Regions from separate parts of the Homo sapiens genome. Here all the other regions are linked to region 2. The links come from fine-mapping of genetic effects on gene expression. A gene starts in region 2. Each other region holds a variant in brackets. All regions are shown on one strand. Distances are between the middles of the regions.

Region 1 (4,119 bases), 110 kb after region 2:
CAGAGCCTGCTCAGGCCTGGAGGCTGCTGCTGGAGCCGGCAACTCTGGAAGCCAGAAAGGTGGGGCTTTAGTGCCTGTCCTCAGACCCTCAGGTAACCAAAGCCAAATTACTCCCTGTTGGAAACACAACCTCACATACCGGGCCACAGCACGGACACCCACGACAGCAGGCCACAGCACGGACACCCACGGCAGTGGCCCACAGCACGGACACTCACAGCATGGACAGCAGCCCAGAGGGACCCTTGCCCAGACCCTGACCAGGGGGAAGAGACAGTTGTGTCTGGGTTTGTCAGTCCTCTGGTTGTGGCAGGGCCCCTCTGGGTGGGACTCGGCACCTGTACCTGGGAGCACCTGCTCAGATGAGGGAGTGGGAGCAGGAACAGCGCTCATGCTCTCTCCCTGTGTCCAGGGCTGGGGCCCTGGTCTGGCGGGTAGGCATAGGGCACCTCCTGCCCTCTCATGCCCTCATACACCTGCTGCTGGGGTTCCCTGTCCCACCCCAAAAGGGAGAAGCCAAGGCTGAGGCAAGGTTGGAAAATCAGGGTGGGGACTCTGGAATCCAGACATCCCGACAGAGGATGCAGGAGGAATCGGCGTGAGCGCAGGGTAAACTCACGGACCCGAACTCTCAGATGTGCTTCCTGGGCTCAGCTTCCCCTTTCTGGAGGGCTGGGGGTTCCAGAACCTTGCCTTGAATTTGTGAGGATGGTGGGACCTGGAGGGCAGGTGGCGCAGATGGTGTGAGCCCTCACCCCAGGACGCTGTGCCCACTTCTGGCTGTGCAGCCTTGGGAAGGCTTCTGACTTCTCTGAACCTCAATCTGTAAAATGGGAATGAGAATGAAACAAGATGAAATTAACATGCATTGAGCGTGTGGGGTGGGGCAGAGACAGCCACCTTGCAGCTGGTGAGGCCCTTACAGCATCTGGTCCTGCCACCTCGCAGCTGGTGAGGCCCTCACAGCATCTGGTCCCGGAGCCCACACAGCCCTTTGCAGAGACTGCCCTACCCACGTGCAAGCGTTTCGCCCTCTTCCCACGGGCGACCCCAGCTTGGCCGCATGCGTTTTTGCTCAGAACGTCCCCACCTATGTCCCACCTGCCCTCTGGCTTCGGGAGTGCTGGGCGCAGTGGTGGCAGGTGCCTCGGTGCCCTTGGACTTGCCCGGTCGTCTGTTGCTTCTGAGGCGGCCCCGTTGATGGGTGCTCCTTCTCTTCTGGGTGCATTTTCCTTTTCCTGCTTCCTCGCATGCCTGGTGATTTTTGAATGGGTGACAGGGATTGTGAATTTTGCTGGGTGCTGACTATTTTTGTAGCAAAGCTGAGAAAAGCTTACTTTGCTCAGGACTCCAGGAAGTTACTTGGAAGCTGTTTGGTCCTTTGGGGTCTTGCTTTTAAGCCCTGCTGGGAGGACCAAGGCAGCTTGTAGTCTGGGGCTGACTGTGCCCTCCTTTACCAGGGCACGGCCCTGCTTGGTGCTCTGCCCAGGGGCTGAGGTGCCCCAGCCTGGCTGGTGGACCACGGACCTTCCACGGTTCCCTCTGGTGATCTCGGGTGGTTCTCCTCACCTTCTGTAGTTGCCTTTCTTTTTTTCTTTTTCTTTCTTCTTTTTTTTTTTTTTTTGAGACGGAGTTTTACTCTTGTTGCCCAGGCTGGGGTGCAGTGGTGCGATCTTGGCTCTCCATAACCTCCGCCTCCCGGGTTCAAGTGATTCTCCTGTCTCAGCCTCCCGAATAGCTAGGATTACAGGCATGCGCCACCATGCCCAGCTAATTTTGTATTTTTTTTAGTAGAAATGGGGTTTCTCCATGTTGGTCAGGCTGGTCTCGAACTCCCGACCTCAGGTGATCCTCCCACCTCAGCCTCCCACAGTGCCGGGATTACAGGCGTGAGCCACTGCGCCCAGGCCTGTAGTTTCCTTTCATGTGAAAATGCTGATTGTGGCTCACTCTTTACCTGCTGTCACCTCACACCTCAGCCTCCCCAGACTCCCAGCTTGGTCTCCTTCCCTGAAGGAGACCCCTGAACACACCTGGGTCCCCACGCCTGCACCACAGCCTGGACACTGGGGGCAGTGAGCTGGGCAGT[C/GAGCTGGGCAGTC]GCGGGGCTCCGCCTCCATTGTTCCCCAGCCTTGCTCACCTGGTGACCCTGGCGGGATGGGGGTCTGGCTGCTCCCTCCTGCCTGGACGTCTGTCCCCACTGGTGTGCTCACGACAGTGCCCTGCATGCCTGCGGGGCTCTCACAGGTGTTTTCTGAGTGGCCTGGGTGGGGCCCGGGCAATCTGCTGGACAACAGACCCTCAACCCATCCCCTGCCAACCTAGCTCAGCCCTGAGCTCCTGGCAAGGGATGAGACAGCCTGAACTTCAGCCCAGGGAGGGGTGCGGGGGCTGCCGTCAGGTCCCTGCTGTTCCCTGTGCACCGAAGGTGGGCCACCTGGTTCTTCCTTCTCCAGGACCTCAGGCAGCCCCTGTTACCCAAGGTGGCGGCTCCACTGTGGGGGCCAGGACAGGGGCGGAGGGTGGATAGCATGCCCACTGTGAATGCCCCGGCTGGGTCCTTGCCTCTCCAAAGGCTTTGTCACCAGGGCCCAGGTGACAGGAGGCTGTCATTGTGAAGGAGATTTAATCTTAGAAAACTCTCAGGAGAGCAGTGAAGCCTCAGGGTGCTGGATTACCCGGAAGTGCACTCTGGGCTGGGGGCAGCAGCCGCGGTCATAACACGTGTGTGCCACACCAGGAAACCTGTCTGCTAACGTGTGCACATGGGCAGGCTGGCAGCACCTGGCTCTGGCTTGCTTGGAGTGGACGTTGGATCAGGTGGCCCGGGTCTCAGCCTGACACTGCCTGGCACTGAGGACAGGGCGTTGCTGACACTGCGGGCTCAGGGTGGGGGTTTGTCTCTACGGCTGACCTTCTGGCCGAAGGAGTGTATGGGGCATGGTCTCAAGCAGGTCCCAGGATCCCTGACCCTTGGCCAGGCCCAGGCCTTGGCTCACGGCCCTCAGATGAACAGGCAGAGGGGGTCAGGACGGGGTGGACCAGAGCAGGCAGGGGGCCCTGGACAGAAGGGGAGATAGAAGGGGGCATGAGGGGCTGTCTCCTTGGTTTGGGTCTTAAACAGCGTGTGGTTTTTCTCTGTTTGAGGGGCAGCCTGCACCCAGAGCCTCCAATGGGCATGGCGTGTTTTGAGGGTGCAGGTGAATCTCTTTACCAGAGGCTCCCCGGGGACAGGGCCCATTCAGAAGGCCACCTCTCTCAGTGCAGCCAGCAGCAGGGCAGAGCTCTGGGGACCCCAAGCCGGAGGCCCACATGGGCGGGAGACACTGCCTCCAGTCACCCCTGGGGAGCCAGCGTCTAGGGTCACTCCCGGTGTGGCTCCCTCCCTGCCAGGCACAGTTCACAGAGGCAGCTGCTTTGGGAAGTTTGGTGCCAGACCCCGCCAAGCCCCTGCCCGGGGCATCTCCTCCCGCACCCTTCGCCGCCATCTTTCAGACGGCTGCTCTCCTGAGCCAGGCCCGCGCGCCATCTCCTTTAGGCTCCTGCAGTTCCTCCGCTGGCCTCCACGCTGCCCCAAGCAGGAGCGTTGGATCTGTCATTTCCTGACGTTAACGGTTAACCCGAGGCTCTGCTGCCTGCAGGATGAACACACTTTTCATTATTTCTCCGATTCCTTCAACCGTCACTGAGCCTGTCTCTGTGCCAGGCGCAGAGCTGCAAACCCAGGAAGACAGTGGTGAGCAGTTCACACTGCCCTTCTTCCTGCTGTGGAGTGCAGAAAAGGAAGCTCCAAGCTTGCACCTGGGGCGTGCAGAGCCACCTTCTGCCAAAGGCTCCCGAGCCTCATAGTTCAGGAGGGGCAGGAGGGGCTGATCGCCCTCACCCCAGAACAGCGCTTTGGCGATCCTTCACGCAGACACCAGTCCCCTCTCTCTATTCCTGTTCATCCTTGATGCCAATGTCAAATGCCACTTCCTCCACGAAGCCTTCCTGGATCCCTCCAGTCAGAATGAGTCCATTGTCCTTGAGCTTCTGAACCCACATCCTGGCCTTTCCAGAACTGGGCCTGCTGGCTTACACAGGAACCCTGCCTTCATAACTGGACTGTAGGCCCCACAGGGGTCTCATCTC
Region 2 (4,119 bases):
TCCCAGCAAGCTTGGGCAGTGGAGGAGGGGGATGGGGCGTTGGGGTAAGGGGCCAGCTTGGCCCTGTGGCTGGGCTGAGACGCCCCTTCCTCGGGCTTCTACAGTCTGTGCACTCAGGGCAGCCTGTGAACCACGAAATCAAGTTTGGGCAGTGCAGGGTGCCCCACCCTCCACCTTCTCAGCTCCTGGGGCCCTGAGGGCAGCTGCTCTGACGGTGGCCTGTGGTAAAGGCTACAGCCGACCTGGCGGCCCTCACGGGGACAGGGACCCACGCACTCACGCACTCCCCTGAGAACAAAGCCGGGAGAAGCAGCCCCTTCCTCAGATCTGGGGGGCTGGGGCTGCCGGATGGGGGGAGAGACAATGGTTGGCCTGTCCACTGCGCAGCCCCTGCTGGGAGCCTCAGGACTGCGGCATCCGCAGGGACCCCCTCCAGTTGCGCAGGCAGAGCCTCTTCCACGCCCCCCAACAGTAGGCTCCAGGAGGCAGATGACCCAGGCAGGGGGAGGGCCTGGTGGCTTTCATCGCCTTCCCCCACCCCAGCCACACCCAGGAGCAGCGGGGAGGAAGTCGGGAAAATCCTGCAGGGGCCTGGCAAAGTGCCCTGGCCGCTGTGGAGGAGACTGGGCCGGCGGGGGAGCCCAGCTGTAGCCCGCACCGGCCAGTCTGAAAGAAGCTGCCACCTTCTCCACCTCCGTGGAGGGAAATGAGTGGATTTCTGGTCCCAGGAGATGGTTTTGGGGGTACACGGGCGCCGGCTCTGGGTCCCCCGAGCCCCTACTAGGAGAAGATGGTGGGGGTCCCAGCGTACCTACCCCGGGGGCTCCCAGAAGCACCTGAAGGAGAAACCAGGGAAACTTCCCCTCCCCGGGGTGGGGAGCCCCGGTTCCCGCAGGAGCGCGATGGGGCACCGGCCCTGCCCCCAAGCACACGAGGCCCGGTGACGGCCCCGCCCACCTCTCTGCTCCTGCACGCCCCCCCCCCGCACCACTGCGGCACCCCCCACCTGGCTCCCGGGGTTGGGAGCTCAGGCTGTGCGCCCCTTTTTCTCTCCTGACCAACCCCTCTCGCCCCGGGAAAGGCCTCTGGGGAGGGGAACAAGCGGATCCCAGGCCCAGCCCCCGCTCCCCGCCCGGGCAAAGGCCCCCCCTCCCCAGGCCCCTCTCCTTCTCGGCCGGTAGGGAGGGCGCGCGGCAGCCGCAGTCCGTGGGCGAGGTGCACTTGTCTCCGCGAGGAGGGAGGCGGCGGCGGGCGGAGGACGGCGGCGGCGCAGCAACTTTCCCCGGCGCCCGCGAGTTTCCCGGGACCCGGCGACCCCCCCTCCCGGGGCTTGGCGGTCGCCAAGGGAGCCGGAGCGGGGGCTGCGGAGCGACCGGGGCTGGTTCCCACGGCCTGGGGCGGGGGTCCCGGCGGGGCGGCAGGCGTCGCGAGGGGAGGCCGGGGTCCGGGTGGGCGCACCTTGCAGGAGTACGTGTGCTGCACCGGGTCCACGTTGAGGATCTCCTCCACCGTCCCGGTGAGCACCACGTTCGCCTCCTCCTCGCGCCGCTCCAGCGCGCGCTCCGGGCATGTCCCGCCGGCTCCGGGCAGGACGCACGCGGCCACCACAAGGAGCGGCAGCAGCGGCCGCAGCGGGCCCGGGTGGGACCGGCCGGCCATGGCGCAGGCGAGAGGCGGCGGAGGAGCGCGCGGGCCGCGCCGGGGACGGGACTGGACAGGACGGGACGCAGCTCCGGAGGCGGCGGAGCGCGGGCGGGCGGGCGGGGGGGGGCGGGGCCAGGGCGGCGCCCCTCCCCCTCTCTCCTCCCCGCCCCCCTACCCCCTCCCCGCGCCCTCCTCCTCCCCCTCCTCCTTCCTTCCCCCTCCCGCCCCCTCCCTCCTCCCTCCCCCGGCCCGCCCGGAGGCCGGCGACCCGCGCCGCCGCGAACAAAGCCCCGGGACGCAGCGCCCGGCGCGGCCGTGGGGCGGGAAAGGGGCGGCCCGGGAGGGGGCGGGGAGAGGAGAGTGGGGGGCGGGTCTGGATCCCGCAGGCGCCCCTCCCCCGCCGCGGCCCCCCGGAAGTGCGGCTGCACCCGAGTTAATGCCTAATCTGGAGGAGACGTGACGGGACTGCCGAGGGGCTCCGGGCGGCGCGGAGCCGGGCGGCAGGGCTCGAAGGCCGCCGGGAGGGGCCCCAGACCCGGCCCCGATCCCGCTCCGCAGGCCGCGCCCCTCCCCCGCGGGGCCGGACACCGAGGCTCGGCCGGGCCGGACCCCCCGGGAGCTGCGGCGCGGAGGCGGGTCCCGGTGCCGGGGCGGGCGCTGATTGGCCAGCACGGGGCGCGGCCCCGCCCCTCCCGGCCCCGCCCCCCCAGGCCCCGCCGCGGGGAGGTTCGCGCCCCCTTCCGTCCCGCGGCTGCAAGCGCGGGTCCCGCCACGCCCCTTCCCAGCTCTGGGCCGGGCGCCTCTGCAGCTTGGCCTGGCTGGGTGCAGGGGGAAACTGAGGGCTGGAGGACCCAAGTGGGAGCCTGGCCTAGCTGAAGATTGAAAGGAGGGAGCGGAGGCCCCCTTTGTCCCTTCAGAACTGTGTCTAGGCTGGGCGTGGTGACTCACGCCTGTCATCCCAGCACTCTGGGAGGCGGAGGCAGCAAGATCTCTTGACACCGGGTGTTCGAGACTAGCCTGGGCAAAATAGCAAGACCCCATCTCTCAAAAAAATTAAAAATTAGCTGGATGGGCCGGGCGCAGTGGCTCACGCCTGTAATCCCAGCACTTTGGGAGGCTGAGGCAGGTGGATCACGGGAGGTCAGGAGTTCGAGACCAGCCTGGCCAACATGGTGAAACCCCGTCTCTACTAAAAATACAAAAATTGGCCGGTGTGGTGGCAGGCGCCTGTAGTCCTAGCTACTTGGGAGGCTGAGGCAGGAGAATCGCTTGAACCCAGGAGGCGGAGGTTGCAGTGAGCTGAGATGGTGCTGAGAGGTGACAGCGTGCTGGCAGTCCTCACAGCCCTCTCTCGGTCTTCACGCCTCCTCTGCCTGGGCTCCCACTTTGGTGGCACTTGAGGAGCCCTTCAGCCCACCGCTGCACTGTGGGAGCCCCTTTCTGGGCTGGCCAAGGCGGGAGCCGGCTCCCTCAGCTTGCAGGGAGGTGTGGAGGGAGAGGCATGAGCGGGAACCGGGGCTGCGCGCGGCTCTTGCGGGCCAGCTGGAGTTCCGAGTGGGCGTGGGCTTGGTGGGCCCCGCACTTGGAGCAGCCGGCCGGCCCTGCCGGCCCGGAGCAATGAGGGGCTTAGCACCCGGGCCAGCGGCTGCGGAGGGTGTAGTGGGTCCCCCAGCAGTGCCAGCCCACTGGCGCTGCACTCGATTACTCGCCAGGCCTTAGCTGCCTTCCGGCGGGGCAGAGCTGGGGACCTGCAGCCCACCATGCCTGAGCCTCCCACCCCCTCCGTGGGCTCCTGTGCGGCCCAAGCCTCCCCGATGAGCGCTGCCCCCTGCTCCACCGTGCCTAGTCCCATGACCACCCAAGGGCTGAGGAGTGCGGGTGCACAGCGCAGGACTGGCAGGCAGCTCCACTTGCAGCCCCAGTGCGGGATCCACTGGGTGAAGCCAGCTGGGCTCCTGAGTGGTGGAGACGTGGAGAACCTTTATGTCTAGCTCAGGGATTGTAAATACACCAATCAGCACCCTGTGTCTAGCTCAGAGTCTGTGAATGCACCAATAGACAGACACTCTGTATCTAGCTACTCTGGTGGGGCCTTGGAGAACCTTTATGTCTAGCTCAGGGATTGTAAATACACCAATCGGCACTCTGTATCTAGCTCAAGGTTTGTAAATACACCAATCAGCACCCTGTGTCTAGCTCAGGGTTTGTGAATGCGCCAGTGGACACTCTGTATCTAGCTACTCTGGTGAGACCTTGGAGAACATTTATGTCTAGCTCAGGGATTGTAAATACACCAATCGGCACTCTGTATCTAGCTCAAGGTTTGTAAATACACCAATCAGCGCCCTGTGTCTAGCTCAGGGTTTGTGAATGTGCCAGTGGACTCTGTATCTAGCTACTCTGGTGGGGCCTTGGAGAACCTTTGTGTGGATACTCTGTATCTAACTAATCTGGTGGGGACGTGGAGAACCTTTG
Region 3 (4,119 bases), 160 kb after region 2:
TACTCTTTAATAGGCAATGCATGTGTGGGGATATTTTTAAGTTTTATCGGTACAAATGAAATATGTTGAACACAAATCGAGCAAATATGACTTGGTCGTTAACATCCCTCTGATTAAACAGGAGTGCTGCTATGAGAACGGGCTGTGCCATTCTGCAGGCACACGAGAGTCGCTGGGTTTTAGGGTAGTCTCTGTGGAGAATGGTGACTGGACCACGTGGGAGAGGGGCTTGAGGCAGGAAGGTGAGCAGACTCCAGAGTTCAAGAGATGTTTGCATACAGTGCCCTCTTGTTTCCCCTTACAGTGTGGCTGTGGCCAGTATTGAGAACCAAGTGTTCAGGAACTCATGCTGGCCTGCCGGTCCCACCTGACCTGAGAGTGGCGGGCACTCAGCGTTTCAGCAAGCTGCTTCCTCAACGATGCTTTTGATCTCTTATTGTTGCTGGGGAGGCTGGAGTCCACCCAAATCAAGTGGGAAGTGCTGTCAGCTGCTACGTCTCTCACCTAGGAGCTTTAGAGGCTCAAGGGCATGACTGGAACAGACTGGAACCCAATGGAAGAGTTTGGATGCAGCATCTGTCCTGCTCCACTGAGCCCCAGGGAGGAAGCCTCGGCCACTGGCTGTGCTGAAGAAGGTCCAATCCGAGTGTGAGGCAGAAGAGCAGAGGCGTCCTCGAAGAGAAGGCCGGGGCTGCAAACCACAGGAGCAGGGTGTCCTGAGAAGCAATGGGAGCAAAATCAAGATGCCCAGAGTCTTGGGGCTGTTTCAGAAACCCCAAAAGCAAGAACACGGGTTGTCCAGTGGGTGGAGTCAGCAGTCCCAGTGCCATTTGGAGTTCAGTCACAGGAAGAACTTGCAAATGACAACACAGCACTGGGCACTTGACCAGGTGGGGGACCCTGCATCCCTGAGGTGGCTCAGGGGACAGGACAGAGGCAGGACCTTGGATCCGGGAATGGGGAGCAGAGCACAGCAGGACAAACCCAAACCCATCTCCATCGTTAAGAAAATCCCCAGCAGGTGGGGAAGGAAGAGCAAGAAGGCGAGAGCCAGGCAAGGCTGGCAGTGTCTGGTGCACAGGCTCCCTTTTCACCCTGGCTTATTTGAGATGGAATTTAAAATATTTTTTGCAAGATAGATTGTGAGCTTTAGAGTGAGAAAAGTATTTCCCAAGAACTTTACTTCATTTATAAAAGAGTAGATATGGAGACAAGGCGTCTGTGGCCCATAGTATTTAATGCACTCGAAACACGTTTAACTTCCAGGGTAGATCTGATGTCCTCCCTCCACCCGTAACTCCCCTGAAATCTCCTTAGTGTTTAGTGGTGCTGTGCCTGCTTTCTCACACACACCACTTGGCCCTCGTGACTCATCTCATACATGCATCTCAATTCTCAGCCTCCCCACAGCCCAGACTTTCTGTTTTAACCTCACAGCTGCCCAGCGTGATGGCTGTGTCCAGCCCAGCTGACGGATTGGCCATTTCAACGTGAATCCCAGGCACTCCAGCCTTCCTTTGCAGGTGCCATTTCCTGACCTGGGTTACTCTACCAAGTTCTCTCCAGCTTTTGTCTCCACAGCAGCCTCCCCACATCCCACCAACACAAACACGCAGCACATGCAAGCACAAACACACGTGCAAACATGCTTAAATACCATGTACACATGCACACAGGTGTATATGTGTACACACACTACACACACTGTACAAACATAAACCCACATATACACACTTGCACACACTGTTGCACACAGTACACAGACACACATGCATGTGAACACATACACATGACACGTGTTCGCATTAAACACATGTGCAATACAAATTCATGTACACATATGCTCGTGTGTGCATACACAATACACAGATACACCCGTACATCAACATGCATCAAAGCACATGCATACACAGAGACATGCGCAATGTGCACAGGTACACACATGCACACATACGCTTTGGAGCTGGGTTCACATGCTGAGTGGATGGTGTGCTCTGAACTAGAAGCCCAAGGCCATGGCCCACTTACCTCAGTGAACCTCACCTGTGCTCCGTGTCAGCAGCCACACCTGGATGTCAC[C/T]CGGAATTGCCCAATTCTGGCCCTGACAACACCGCAACCAAGGAAGAGGCACAAGACCCAGGAGACGATGGTGCTGGCTGATGCCGCCCCTCCCTGAAGGCTCAGAGCCTACACTTGCTGGGTGCTCCATGGCCATGTGAAGCCCAGGGGAGCTGAGTGATGGCACCGCAGGCCCCAGGAGTGCTCCTCTGGCTTCACATGCACCCAAGCTGTGATTTTTCAGATAAATATGACTCAGAAGACCTCGGTGTTTCTGTGTGATTTGCCTACCTAATGTCGGAGATGGGTATTACAAAATATTTTTGGTTCATCAAATGGTTTAAGGTAATTTCTCAGTAAGATGGCTTGGCTCACACGCCATTTTCAAGAATGCTGAGAAAGGAGAGTGTGCCATCAAGCTGTGGAATCGCTTGGTACGCTGTGGAATTCCGTGGTAAGACGTTTTTCAAGGACTGAAGTGCATGGAAGAGGAAAGGAAACCTTTGTTGCCTATTCATGTGTTATTTCCAGGTCTCGACCCACCAGTCCCCACTGCCTCCCTTCGTAGCTCCTCTGGTTCCCATGTGAGTCCCTCCCTTTGCATCCACACGATGCACTGCGTCACTCATCTGCACGCATCTTGCTTTCCAGAGCAGACTAAAAGCCCCTCTGGACACAGAAAGTGCCTCTGTCTCTTTTAATAGCTATTGTACCTCACAGAGCATTTAAATTTTTATTGATGGGTTAATAAATAATTGATTGATGGGGACCGAAACTAATCTTTAAAATTGATTGTCAACTGAAAACCTGCACAAGATATCCCACTGTTTAACAATAGAGAGGAGCTATTGCAGCTGCTGTGACGACTGGCAATGTCCTCTTCTTTATCGCACCTCTAAGAAATCTGCTGGCAAATGACTTCTTGGATACTGTTTCATTAAGGAATTTCTCAATGGATAAAGTTTTTACTATTCTAAAAGTATCTTTGTGTCTTCACAGTAGGTGCTGTATTTGGTTTGGAGGAATTTTATTAGTCTAAAGGACATAATTTCTTCCTTCTAGGAGCTTACAGAGGACTAGAGGATGAGTTACCTGCAGAACCCATCACTCTATGGAACCTCCCGGCCGGTGTCCTGCACCCTAGGATTACACACATGTAGTAACACAACTTATTTCCACATTCTGTAGCCAAAGCCTAATGGGTCAGGGTTCATCAGTTTACCACACGGCAGTCATCTCATGTTGATCAGGGTCGGGGTTCATCAGTTTACCACACGGCGGTCATCTCATGTTGATCAGGGTCGGGGTTCATCAGTTTACCACACGGCGGTCATCTCATGTTCATCAGGGTCGGGGTTCATCAGTTTACCACACGGCGGTCATCTCACGTTGATCAGGGTCGGGGTTCATCAGTTTACCACACGGCGGTCATCTCACGTTCATCAGGGTCGGGGTTCATCAGTTTACCACACGGCGGTCATCTCACGTTCATCAGGGTCGGGGTTCATCAGTTTACCACACGGCGGTCATCTCACGTTCATCAGGGTCGGGGTTCATCAGTTTACCACACGGCGGTCATCTCACGTTCATCAGGGTCGGGGTTCATCAGTTTACCACACGGCGGTCATCTCATGTTGATCAGGGTCAGGGTTCATCAGTTTACCACACGGCGGTCATCTCATGTTGATCAGAAGCCTTGACAGCAAGCCTAGATGTCTGTTGATTATAAATAAAAATTATTATTTATAAATGCAATTTGTTTGGAAAACAAAAATCAAAGCTTGGGATCCATGGAGTTAAAAAATAACTAAAGAATCTCTACTGATTGAAAGATAGTGAGCTAGGCAGGGCACAGTGGCTCATGCCTGTAATCCCAGCACTTTGGGAGGCCGAGGCGGGCAGATCACTTGAGGTCAGGAGTTCCAAGACCAGCCTGGCCAAGATGGCGAAACCGCGTCTCTACTGAAAATACAAAAATTAGACGGGCATGGTGGCGCACGCCTGTAATCCCACCTACTCAGGTGGCTGAGGCAGGAGAATAGCTAGAACCCGGGAGGTGGA

Evidence for each region. PIP is the estimated chance that this variant, and not a neighbour inherited with it, causes the effect. A credible set is the group of variants that fine-mapping cannot tell apart.
Region 1: its variant is the best candidate, but not a certain one, in a credible set for the expression of AGRN in sigmoid colon (GTEx, PIP 0.74).
Region 3: its variant is the best candidate, but not a certain one, in a credible set for the expression of AGRN in whole blood (TOPMed, PIP 0.70).

Annotation. Positions count from the first base shown.
Region 1 is chr1:912,454-916,572 of GRCh38, reverse strand. It overlaps LOC284600 (a long non-coding RNA gene), which reads right to left. Exons shown (of 5, transcript XR_007065342.1): 2 at 1,102-4,119; 3 at 624-823. Among named protein-coding and RNA genes, the nearest start is that of LINC02593, 5.2 kb to the left of the region's middle. RefSeq lists enhancers at 2,882-3,382, 3,383-3,883. The variant C/GAGCTGGGCAGTC (reference allele first, on the strand shown) is at 2,090.
Region 2 is chr1:1,017,713-1,021,831 of GRCh38, reverse strand. AGRN (agrin) reads right to left here and starts at 1,712. Exons shown (of 36, transcript NM_198576.4): 1 at 1,459-1,712. The coding sequence starts at 1,659. RefSeq lists an enhancer at 1-440 and a silencer at 1,949-2,398.
Region 3 is chr1:853,046-857,164 of GRCh38, reverse strand. LINC01128 (long intergenic non-protein coding RNA 1128) reads right to left here. Exons shown (of 4, transcript NR_047524.1): 4 at 1-3,774. Among named protein-coding and RNA genes, the nearest start is that of FAM41C, 22 kb to the left of the region's middle. The variant C/T (reference allele first, on the strand shown) is at 2,080.